Regions from separate parts of the Homo sapiens genome. Here all the other regions are linked to region 3. Evidence: fine-mapped expression QTL. A gene starts in region 3. Each other region holds a variant in brackets. All regions are shown on one strand. Distances are from middle to middle. Region 1 overlaps PKIA (cAMP-dependent protein kinase inhibitor alpha). Region 2 has its middle 750 kb from the start of PEX2. Region 3 holds the start of PKIA (cAMP-dependent protein kinase inhibitor alpha).

Evidence for each region. PIP is the estimated chance that this variant, and not a neighbour inherited with it, causes the effect.
Region 1: its variant is the best candidate, but not a certain one, in a credible set for the expression of PKIA in whole blood (INTERVAL, PIP 0.83).
Region 2: its variant is the best candidate, but not a certain one, in a credible set for the expression of PKIA in hippocampus (GTEx, PIP 0.85).

Annotation. Positions count from the first base shown.
Region 1 is chr8:78,535,898-78,540,146 of GRCh38, forward strand. All of the region lies in intron 1 of PKIA (cAMP-dependent protein kinase inhibitor alpha), which reads left to right. All of the region lies in intron 2 of PKIA-AS1 (PKIA antisense RNA 1), which reads right to left. The region is part of intron 2 of LOC105375911 (a long non-coding RNA gene); the gene reads right to left. Among named protein-coding and RNA genes, the nearest start is that of PKIA-AS1, 20 kb to the right of the region's middle. The variant T/C (reference allele first, on the strand shown) is at 2,517.
Region 2 is chr8:77,751,901-77,756,149 of GRCh38, forward strand. No RefSeq gene overlaps it. Among named protein-coding and RNA genes, the nearest start is that of PEX2, 750 kb to the left of the region's middle. The variant C/G (reference allele first, on the strand shown) is at 2,590.
Region 3 is chr8:78,514,229-78,518,477 of GRCh38, forward strand. PKIA (cAMP-dependent protein kinase inhibitor alpha) reads left to right here and starts at 2,112. Exons shown (of 4, transcript NM_006823.4): 1 at 2,112-2,240. All of the region lies in intron 2 of LOC105375911 (a long non-coding RNA gene), which reads right to left. RefSeq lists a silencer at 2,057-2,356 and an enhancer at 2,677-2,786.

The sequences.
Region 1 (4,249 bases), 22 kb after region 3:
GGGGTGACCTGGAACCAATCGCCCCATGCACGCTGCCAGGTGATGACTGTAAATGGTCCTCTGAATCAGTGACTCGCTGAGGGAATCAGGAAGAACAATCTTACCTTTCTGCTCAAGCTCAGGCTCACAGTTTAATCTTTTAACCTCCCTCTGCATCAGTCTAAGTTTCAAATAATAATGGTAATTTATTTCCTCTGTTATTAAAAAACAAGACCAAAAAAACCACAAACAAAACCCTATCAAGACTGGTGGGGTATGACCTGTATATTTTTAGCTTCTGAAATTTGTCCTATTACTATTTAAAATTAAAAGAATACATTTTTCTATTTATAAATATATTTAAGACTGCCAAATGATAGCTGTTCCTTACCCAACATTAGTTATAAAGAAAAAAAGCAATTCCAAACAAAAATGATATTGCAACAAAAACATGATATATGTATTTTGTGAAAGAAGTACAGCTGCCTCAGAGACAATGAGAGGCTATGAAAATAAAGGAAAACCATCTGAGCTCTGGTTAGAGACTCTGGAAGTAGTGAGCACAAATTTCTTTGAAAGAAAAAGAAGAGGAGTCTGATGTAGGTAGACAATCCAATTCTAGTTACTGTCTTTATTTGTGATAGTCCATAGTCTAAAAAGGTGCAAATACTATTAACTAGCCTGAGGACAAGGTGGCAACTGCATTTCATTCTGAAATGGAAAAATCCAAGGAAGGTAGAAGAAACAATTGCATGAGAATTATTACTCAATTATTTTTCCTCAAAAAGCTGTGTATCTTCTTTTTTGAACTTTGGGAAAGCATATATAAGAGTTTCTTTGACCCCGAATAGTCCATGTATTTACCCAGAAATATTTGTGTATCTTGCTACTGCAGCAGGATTACAAAATAGATTACAACTCTACTGTAGAAAGAAAATATGTTTTTATATAATCTGTAACTTATCTGGGTAGCTAGAAAACATACACACACACACACACACACACACACACACACACACACACACACACACACTACATTTTAATCCTGGCATCTCAGTCAACTCCCATATCTGAGTGGTTCTTTCAAATAATGCTTCTGAGTCTACAACTTTACCTTTCCTTCTCTAAGAAGTGTCAGGGCATATGGCTGGAGGAACTTAGTATATAGACCTAGATAGAGCTCAGGGTTTTGGGGACCAGTTATGAAGGGGCTGAGGGATCTATAGGCCACTTCCTTTGATAAACCTCTGTACCAGCTCTTTTCTTCCCAAAATTTCCCCAAGTAACAAGGTTTAGTTTAGTTTTTTTTTTTTTTAAGCTTCTTACTCATAAGCTTCTTTCATGGCAAACCCTGATATTTTTTTCCTAGGTAGAAAATTATTTGGATTTATCCATCTAATTCTCTGATACAGTAAAAGATAGCTATAAACTTTTAGCAAAATTTATCTCTATGAAGATTTTAGACTTTGAAGCTTAACTGACTAAATTTTTCCAATACTTGCTCTCTATTGTCTGAAGGGTAGACATTTCCTTGCCTTTAAGAGGTGGAAAGCCACAAGGGAACAAGTCCTTAAAGAGATAGTCTAAAAAGCCCTTTCTAATCTACACCACCTCCAGCACCACCAAAAGTCTTCAATTTTATCCACATATTTGTTTCTATGCGATAACCGATATATTTTTGAGTTACTTTATTTCCCAACCCCCTCTCCGTCCCACCCCCCACCGCCAACAACTAGAGTGCAAATTCCATGAGATCAGGGTCTTGGCTTTTTATTATTTTTTCATTGCAGGACCTACCTACAATAATTACTGGCACATAGGAGCCACTCACTAAATACTTCTAGAATGAAAGAAAATAAAAATGTGATGCATCCTTACAGTAGATTATCCACTGCAAATTTTGGTTGCTAGCAAGCATGCATCTTTTGTGCTACTGCCTCAAATGGGCCTTCTGCTGCAGACATACTTATCTATTGACAGTTCTTTTGAACCACCATTGCTCTTCATGTTTTCTTGCTTTAAATCATGCTGTTGCCGCTGCCTAGAAGGTTCACTTGTGAACCTTCTTGTCTTTCACACTCCTAAATTTCCTCAAAACATAAATCAGGTGTCCTGGTCTCCAAAAGTATTTCATGATAAACTTTTTCTTTCTCTAAGTCCCTGTGCTGACATATAACCCTCATACCCTATGCTGGCCCTAAACTTGTTCTTTCTCTACGTCCCTGTGCTGACATATAACCCCCATACCCTATGCTGGCTCTTAACTCACTCTTTATACTATTCTCTCTGATGGAAACTCATGGACTTTGTTAAGGGAGGCATTGAAAGCAGGAACTGTTTGCTATTTCTGGCATCAAAAGCAAAATGCCTGGTGCATGACAACTATTCATAAACATTGAATAAATGAACAACAACCCACCTTATTTCTCTCTCATGGTACTACTCTTTATTGTTTTAAACTTCTATAGTTATCCTGGGGAAATATGAGAGTAATGAGTTTTCTTGAAAGTCAGGTGCAGGGACATTTATGGCAATAC[T/C]TGTCTTGAAGATCAACTACATCAAAGTTTCAAGACTAACTAGAATAATTCTCAAGGAGAAGGAAAGAGGCATTCAAGCTTATTTTGGAGTAGTAAATAACAGTGATTCTGGTGTCCAAACTGTCACAAAGACAACCACTGCCATATTAAGCTTCTAATACTAAGAAAAGTGTCAGGTATACGGTAGTAGATCCTGATGAAACTCTTCAGAAACTGTTTCTGCACTTTACCTCATCTGGCAGCTCTTGGTGTGCGCTGAGGTAATATATTAAATTTGTGGTGTAATTAGTTTAGAAATTATTCCCCTAGGGAACAAAGATGGTCAAGAGACAAAGCTTGATCTAAAGTTGACAGCCTGGGAGACAGGCCGAATTTGGAGGTGTTACCGTAGCATATGTGGCTTAGTATTGAATAGGTCAAAATATTAATGACCCATCCTACACACAACCCAGGGAAAAATGACTGGGCATTGTGAGAGAGTGTGGGTGTCTTGGCAGAAAGGTATTACATCTGTTTCTTCCACATCTATGAGTGAATTATGCATGCTATGACAAGGAGGCTTTTTTAAATATGAGAAATTTGAGGCAAAAATGATAGACCAAAAAAGTGCAGAGAAACAAGGTGAGTAATGAAAGGCAGAAGTGGTATATTGGCAGGCCTGGAAATCAGCTGTGAGTAATTTGAGTTAATTAAATGTGGCATAAAACATTTGGAGGAAAAGGTTGATGAGATCCAATTAATGGGCAAAAGAAATAATTTTCTGAACAGTAACATTTGGGCTATATCAAAGATAAAAGTGGTATGTGATAAGAGATTGAGAAAATGAACATGATAATTCTTTTGTCACATGAGGAAATCTGAGGTGAGGCTGAGAACCCTGTCTCGATGTAAGGAAGAAATCATCTTCAGGAAATGGCAGTTGCATAAAACAAAAAGGGAGACTCAGGGGTATAAGCAAGTGGATTAAAAACTTGTCTGATTTATTCATAAATGATCTGACTCCATTTACTTCTGTTTCTCAGATTTCTTGGGAATTGATAAGTATATTTTCTCCATAGTACTTCTTGAGATGTAGAACATCTAACATCAATACTGATTATTGAGTTTTGTTGTTTTTCTCTAACTCAGAGATTTTTATTTTAAAGCAGCAGTAAGCAATCTATAATTCACAGCAGTAAACTATAATCTACAAGCCAAACCCATTCTTAGCTAAGAATGCTTTTTACATTTTTAAAAGGTAAAAAAAGGAAAAAAAATGAAGAATATGTGATTATGTAGTCCACAAGGACAAAAATATTTATTACCTGCAGTGCTTAAATTTAAAGGGTAAAATTAATTAAAGAAATCCTCACATTAGAATTACATGTAATATAATTATATGTAATAAACCTAATTATATTACATATAATGCATGATCCTCTACGAATTTAATTTGAATGTGAAGATTTCTCTAATTGCATATATATAAACATACACCTACAGTTTTATGTGAGAGAACAATTCTGTCTTACACATTATATGATTTCACACCTTTGAGGATAGATTGCTAGATAAAAGAGATAGGAAAAAATATTTAGCAGTTTCATAGTTCATTGGGGTCAAGAAGAAAGAGGAGTGTGGCAAGTTCATTTTCTTCTTACAATTACAACATCAGAGAAGAAATGAAGTAAAAAAAAAAAAAAGTGAATCAGAAGCCTGATTGTAGGAGATGCATGGAGAGAATGAATAAGGCA
Region 2 (4,249 bases), 760 kb before region 3:
AACATTAAGGTAGAAACGAAGAAGTTCTTTAAAACTAATGAGAACAAAGTTACAACATACCATAATCTCTGGGACAAAGCTAAGGCAATGTTAATAAAAAAATTCATAGCACTCAATGTCCACATCATAAAGTTATAAAGATCTCAAATTAATAACCTAACATCAAGACTGAAATAAATAGAGTCAAGAACAAATCAACTCCATAGCTAGCAGAAGACAGGAAATGACCAAAATTAGAGCTGAACTGAAGGAAACTGAGACAGAAAAAACACCATTCACAACATTAACAAATCCAGGAGCTTTTATTTTTAAATAGTAAGACAGATGGGCTGCTAGCTAAATGAATAAAGAAGAAAAGATAGAAGCTTCAAATACACACAATTAGAAATGATAAATGGGATGTTACTACTGACCCCACAGAAATAAAAATAACCATCAGAATCTACTACATACACTTCAATCCACACAAACTAGAAAACCAAGAAGTGAATAAATGCCTGGACACATATACCCTCCAAAGACTAAACTAGGACGAAATTCATTCCCTGAACAGACCAGTTTGAGCTCTGAAACTGAATCAATACTAAAGAGACCATAATAAACAGATGCTGTCAAGTTTTCAAAGAAAAGGGAACACTTATACACTGTTGGTGAGAGTAGAACTTAATTCAACCATTGTGGAAAGAGGTTTGGCAATTTCTCAAAAAGCTAAAAACAGAACTACCACCAGACCCAGCAGTCCCATTACTGGATATGTGCCCAGAGAAATATAAATTATTCTACCATAGAGAGACATGTATGTGAATGTTCACTGAAGCACTGTTCACAATAGCAGAGACATGGAATCCACCTAGATGTCCATCAATGACAGATCAGATAAAGAAAATGTGGTACATATATACGATGCAATACTATGCAGCCATAATAAAGAACAAGATCATGTCTTTTGTGGAAACACGGATGAAGCTGGAGGCTATGATTCTTAGCACACTAATGAAGGAACACAAAGTCAAATACTGCATGTTGTTACTTATAAGTTAGACCTAAATAATGGGAACTCATGAAAACAAAGAAGAAAACAACAGACACTAGTGTCTACTTGAAGGTGGAGGGTGGGAGGAGGGAGAGGAGGATAAAAAATTACAACTGGGTACTAGGCTTAATACCTGGGTAATGAAGTACTCTGTACAACAAATCCCCATGACACAAGTTTACTTATATAACAAACCCCTAATCTAAAATATAAGTTAAAAATATAATAAGATAAAATAAAACACAAGCTGAGGGATTTCATCAACACCAGGCATGTCATACAAAAATGGTAAAAGGTTTTCAATCTGAAATAAAAGAATGTTAATGAGCAATAAGAAACCATCGTGCAAAACTCACTAGTTATAGCATGTACACAGTCAAACACCAAAAATTATACCACTATAACTGTGCTGTGTAAACTTCTCAAATTGTGCATAGAAAGATTAAAAGATTAAAGTTTGAAAGGTACTGTTTTAGTAGATTGTTAGATACATAGGTACAGAGCTCAGTAGGAAAGTTGGGTGAGAGTTAAGGACATGGAAGTCAATATCACATTATCAAACAAAACCATAGTAATCATGAAATTGTGATTATATTGAAAGAATGAAAATTTCACCATCCACTTCATTATGGTATTAGATTGCATTTGATTCTGAATATTTTTATTATCTATATTTATAAATCATGATTTTCTACTAAAAATTATAAAGTTGTAAAAAGGCAATTTCAACAGAAGTGAATATAATTTTGCTATTTGATTATTGTGTTTCAGGGGATAGAAATACAATAATCAAATAGCAAAATTATACTGTAGCATACTTTGCTACTGTAACTGCAAATGGAACCCTATATTATTATTTATTAGAAGTGAAAGAGAAGATACGGAGATCCAGATGCATTGTTTAGATTTCTAAAATATTTATCATAAAACAGTTTGAACAAACCAGTGCAATTAAAAACTCTCTTTTCTTATAAATTTAATTTCAAAAAATATATATCTGGCAAATAATTCACTCAGAAAGTCAACGCTTGGAAAATTTATAAACAGAATAACATAACTTTTCTATAGGCATAAATTATTTTTTTCTATAAATAAGGTGCCCCAGTGTGGTTTCACCCTTATATAGCCAATTTGTCAACCAAGACCCCATGCCAGGCAGATACAGTTAAAAAGCTGTCTAAACATGTCTTTATTGTGCTTTTCAGTTTGGTTCCCACATTTCAACCCAGGACTCTCATTCTGCCCTGAACAGTGTGAGTGCATTTAATTACAATCTGACATGTGTATTGGTGAGAAACAAAAGGCTGTGAACTGAGGGTGATGATTAACTGTTCTACTGGATAATTGCTTAAACTACTACTTATATTATGTGGCATTATCTCTTTTGAACAAAGTGATTATTGGCTTTTTGTGTAGTGATTATACAGTGTAAGTGCAATCTTGCTGTGTTAATTTTGTCAGAGTGTATGTTTAATATACTTCCTTTACAACGAGGCATGCAACTTTAGATATTTCTTATTTGGTTGAGTCCTTCAAGAAACAATCTTCTACAGCTT[C/G]ATTTGTCTGTTTGAAATGCACAACATCTTCTGGCCTTCAAAGAGAAAGGAAGCAAAGACATGATGATACAGTATTCAGGAAGAAAATAAGACATACTTGCAACTTTTGTATGCATAGCCACAGATGGCAAATACATTCAATATTATAATTTTGACAAAAAGGTTCTAAATGGCTATAAGGGAAAATAGATATTTTAAAAAATTAAATATTTAAAAAAATTTTTTAAATTCTTCTATGGACAGAATGTATATGCCACATACTTTATTCACTTGTCAAATATGTAAAGATATTCACCAGTAGTTTCCATGATGAAACTATATTGTTGTTTCTATAGAAAATTATAATTACATTTTTTAAAAACTTTAATTTATATTTAGGTAATTAAGTCTTACTGAACTTTACTCCTTTCCAAAAACTGTTCATATTTCAAGCTCTTGTTTCCTCAAAAGAAAATGTTTTTGATCCTATTACGTTAGATTGCATTTGGTCTATTTAAAGATTTTTTAAAAATTCCTTTACAGTTATTTCTGATGAAATCAAAGCACACGCTATGTTAATGCTTTTCTTTAGGCATAATTAATATACAATATACTACATATAGAAAAATGTACAATTTGATAAGTTTTGAAATATTTATATGTCACTGTACCATAACCACAATCACATCAATTAATATAGATTTAGTCCTAAAGTTTCCATGGGTCTCTTTGTAATCTTTACCTCTTGCCCACCCCTGAAACTCTCCATTCCAACCCCTAACTACCACTGCTCTGCTTTCTGATGGTATAGATTCATTTGCATTTTCTATAAAGTTAAATATAAATGGAGTGGTAAAATGTGTACTCCATCTGGCTTTAATATTAAATGCAGGTTTTCGAAGCATGCCAATTATTAGGTTGAGGAAGGATCATCTACTCATGGTATTTATAACAAATGAATGTTGAATTTTGACAGGCTTTTTTTCATATATTGAGAGTGATTATCATAGTTTTTTCCTTTCTTATTTATTAATATGATGAATTATACAAATTGGTTTTTGAATGTTAAACCAAACTAGCAATCCTGAGATTAACTCTATTTGTTCATAATATATTATCCCTTTTTTATATAGTTGGATTTAATTTAGTAAGTGTTGTTAAAGTGTTGTATTTTTATGAAGGATATTGCTCTGCAATTCTTTCCTGTATTGTTTTTCTCAATGTCTTCATCTGCTTTTGGTATCACTGTTATAGTGGTCTCATAGAATTAGTTAGGAAGTGTTCCCTGGTCTTTATTTTCCAAAAAACTTTGTGTAGAATTGATATTATTTGTAGATCTCCAATAAAGTCATCTGGGCCTGGACAATTTTTGTGGGCAGATTTCTTTTTTCTTACAAACTCAGTATCTTTAAAAGATATAAAGTCTTTTAGCTTATCTACGTATTCTTGGATGACCTTTTGCAGTTTGTGTTTTTAAACTGGCTTTTTTAGAGCGAATTGAGTTTGTTCCATCCTCTTTAACTTTTTAAAAGTTTATTAACGTTTCACATTAATTATTCTTTTAGTGTTCTGTGGAAAGCATTGAGTCCTGGGCTTTACAATGTTTTAAGTGTATTGATTAGTAATGCCACGTTGCTACTGTTACAGGTCTCTTTAGATTCTGTTTCCAGTTCACGTTTCT
Region 3 (4,249 bases):
TGGGGGAGGACTTCCCCCTTGGCTTTCTGGTGGTAGTGAGTTCTCATGACATCTGGTTGTTTAAAAGTGTGTAGCACCTCCCCCTTCTCTTTCTCCTGCTCCAGCCATGTAGGCCCTGCCTGCTTCCCCTTTGCCTTCCACCATGATTATAGGTTTCCTGAGACCTCCCCAATCATGCTTCCTGTACAGCCTACAGAACCACCAGCCCTTCTTTATAAATTACCCAATCTCAGGTAGTTCTTTATAGCAATGCCAGAATTACACCAAGGTACCTTACTATTGTATGATGTCAATAGGAGACACTGGGAATGGGATATATGGGAACACCCTGTATTATTTCTTCAATTTTTCTGGACACCAAAGCTGAAAAATATAGTCTATTAAATAAAAAAAGTAGTGATGATTTGATTATAACATCAGTGTAGTGATAGAGATATCTATAAAAACAGCAATAAGGAATTAGCTGTTGTTTCTATTGGAAACAAAGTCCCAGGTACTCCTAACATTCTTGTGGTTTGTTGCCTACATTATGTTTAAAGGACATGCTAAATGCTAAATTTCAGTTAGAAGTTAGTGAAACTAAAAATGAGATTTTTCCCATTATACTTAATCTGTATAAAAGGAGTATATGAATAGAATTCCATTTATACAGATTAAGAATCTCCTGCTCTATGGTAATATTAACGGGCTAATGTTATGAAAGTGAGTCTCAGAGCGATGAATTAAGCTGTTCTAGCTTTCAAAGAGCATATATTCTATGACCAAGAATTCTAACTAAGTTTTGTTGGAAAGCTGTTGGCTACATTATCACCTAACTTTGGGACTGATAGATGGATGGAAACATCTCATTTAGCAAAGGTGCTTCCCTGGCCTTGTGCAATTGCACTGTTTAGGTTGCTGGACAAATCCATAGTGTAAAGCTGGCCTGTATCAAGTGACGGTCAATTCAAACAGCAAGGCAAGTTAAAAGAGGGAACTCCATTCCACAGAACCCTAGTGTCAAGGAACCTCCCGACTGGAAAATGACTCAACAGCTAGGCGGAAACCCTGGCTCAGCTACAAAGAGAGCAAATTTAGTCCCATTTTTCCTTAAACATTCAACCCTCAAACCTGAAGAGATTTGGGAAAGAAGCAAAACGGGAGGGTGGGGGAGAGAGAACAGTCTTGTTAACAGCTAGTGTTAATTTAAAAAGAGAAGGAAAGGGCTTATATGAATACATGCTTATTTCATTCCCAAAGCAAATTTTCATAAATCCTTAGGGAAAGAGAGATAGTCATTTGCTAATGTAGACTCTGCTTTTTGATTCCCAAATGTTACAGCTGTCACCACAACAGTTTGCCCAATTATGTGGCAGGGAGGGGAGGGGGTCCAGAGCAAAGGAAGTAGGAGGAAGAGATGTTAGAGGGAACATCTGTGCACAAGTGCACCATAAACACAACAAAATCATGGGGCCACCCCACTGTTTCTTTGAGCGCTTTCTCTGGTTGGCCCCACTTCTCCAGTCTTTTAGGAGATTCCCGTTCTATTACGTAGGTGAGAGGGCGAAAGGTTCTAGCTTTCAAAATTGTGAGTGGTTTGGCTGTGTGCATACGTGTGTGTGCGCGCGTGTGTGCGTGTGTGTGTGTGTTTGCGTGTGTGTCTGTTGGCGGGGGCGGGGGTGATGGAGAGAGCTATGAAGGGCTTAGAAAGCTTCATTACCAATTTAAAATGTTTTTGTAGTGCTTGAATGTTTATCTTAAAAGACAATTCCTGCTCTCAAATTCAGCCAAATGAACAATGCTGATAAGGAAGATGAAGAGGGTGGGAAACCCACAGGGGCAAATGGAACAGTCCATGCAGCCGGGGTGACGGGGGAGCGCTCGGAGGAAGGACGCTATGCAGAGAAAGCCCCCCTGGCTCTTCTCTCTCAATCCATAATCCAGCGATGCTGCAGCTGTAAAAGCATTAATAGAAAATCAATCCACAACCTCGCGGGGCAGCGATCGTCGAGCGCCGTTTCCAGGCTGCCTTCCCTGGGGTCGGGAGCGGCCCCGCTCCCCCCGTGGCTGGCGCGGAATGTGGTGATCCGTCCCGGGGCGGGGATGACTTCATGCAGCCGGAGCTCCGCGGCGGGAGCGGAGGCTGCTGCTGGCAGGTGGGGCGCGGGCCGGCGCGAGCTGACCGAGCACTCGGCGGGCGCGGCGGGACTGCGGCCCGTGGCGGCGTGCGCGGGGACCTGCGCTGACTAGGTCCGGGGAAGGTAAGCAGCCCGGCACCGGTGCGCCCTGGCCGCACTGCGTGGAGCTTTCCGCTTGGTTAATAATGGGGTTTGCAGCACGGAGGGAAGAAGGGGAGAACCCCGCTGCATTCTGCAATGAGAAAAGGAGCAACAACTAGGATGGAAATGTTGGGCGGCCAAGTGCAGAGGTTGGAGGAGCAGTGTTACTGGGCAAACAAAGAAGGCGTTCTTGCCTCTATACTCTTTTGAACGTGATCTACCATTTCAGTGCCAGATTCGCGTAGACAGTGAAGAGGACTCAAAATTTAAAATAATTTGAGTTACTCTTTTGCTTTCTGTGCCTTTTACCTTCGCTTGAGTATTTTGAGGATTTGGAGCAGTAGGTCCCTGGCAGCAGCCTGAGGTAATCAGAAATCGTCCCTCTTCCTGTAGTCCTTGGTCCTCTCCCTTTCCAGTTATCAGAATGGGTCTGTGCCCCTCTCAATGGCAAAACACCTGCTTCAAGACTGAACCTTTAGAAAGAGCCTCTATCTGGAGGGGAAACTTCTCTTATCTCCTGGAGTTCAGCTTGGGTTGAGCAGCACTTGACATCGCTTCTTCCTTCAATTGCCATTTTCTCTGTCAATCATTTCATTGATCTTTTTCGGAGATGCTGTGCCCATTCACAGACCAACTCTCGTCAGCTCTTATCCACCACCTGGGTTCCATGACTGATTTTGTCAAGGTCCCAAAAAGGGCATTGCCTCACACAGATTTCTTATTCGGTATTCTCCCTGTATACTGTTACCTGTGTCCTTCCCCCAAATGCATGGAATGAAATATCCTGCTTGTGGCCCTGTACCAACATGTTATCCCATTAACTCCCTTCGCTGTAGTCACTGTGGCTACTTGAAAGCTAGAGAGGACAGATAGAATCTACTGGAGTGTGAGGGATGTTCCCTATGCATAGGCATAGGTAGAAGTAAAAATGTGAATGCCAGTCCATCCAGTTTTTCTTGAAGCAATTTTAGTCCAGTTGGATTTTGAGACAGCTAGCTGTTAAGATTTGGGACAAATCCTTTCCAAAAGGCAGAGGAGTCCGTTTGCCTCTAGGATTCCTCAAGAACCTCAAAAGAGTTTCCAGTGAGGTTTTCCTCGTAGGCAGTCAGAAAGCCAATGGAGCTGCCCAATCTAAGCCTCTGGTTGAGTATCCTCTAGTTTGTCTTGCCATTTGCAGGTTCCTATCCCTCGTCCTAGGATTTTCCCCACAGACCCCTTGCTACTGAGCCCAAGTGCCTATCCTTGTTGCCACCTAGAGATGTACATTTGAATAATATGCTGTGAAATGGTTAAGATGGCTGTTATGGGGATTGCAAACGTGCCACTTCACCAACAGAGAACAGTTGCAATAAGCCAGATTGTGGGGTATCTGTGTGCCAATGTTCTATTTAAAGGAAGATCTGTTATCTTTAAACTTAAAATTACAGAGACTGTCTGACTCAACAGCCATGCAATTTTATTTTAGTAAATTAAATTAGAAGATCAATGAAAAAGAGGGGCAGAGTTGGTAGCTTAAAATTTTACCTCTTTCTTTCCTCTTCAAATATTATTTTTAAGCAAAGACACTAGTATGGAAAATCGTGTTAATCATATTATATATCATTATTGCCTTTCTATTACAAATTTCGTTTTTACAAAATGCACTTTAGAAAGATTTGAATTTGTTTCTTTGTCTCCATCTTCAGTATATGAGGCATAGGGTGAGGGTGTAGGGGGTGGGCAAAGCCCACTACTGAGTGATCCACTCCAGGAACTGCCCCTTGGGGTCTTAATAACCTTATGTTCCTTTTTTGTTGTTGTTATTATGTGTTAAACAGGGTTTTGGTTTGAAATATTAACTTCTTGAGATTCTAGAATTTTTACTCAGTCACATTAACTATGAGGTAACAAAGAACAAGATCAACAACAAACCCTGTATTCTACCACCTTTTTTCTACTATTAAAATACTTAACCATATACATCATTATTCTGAATAATACTAATATAGAAT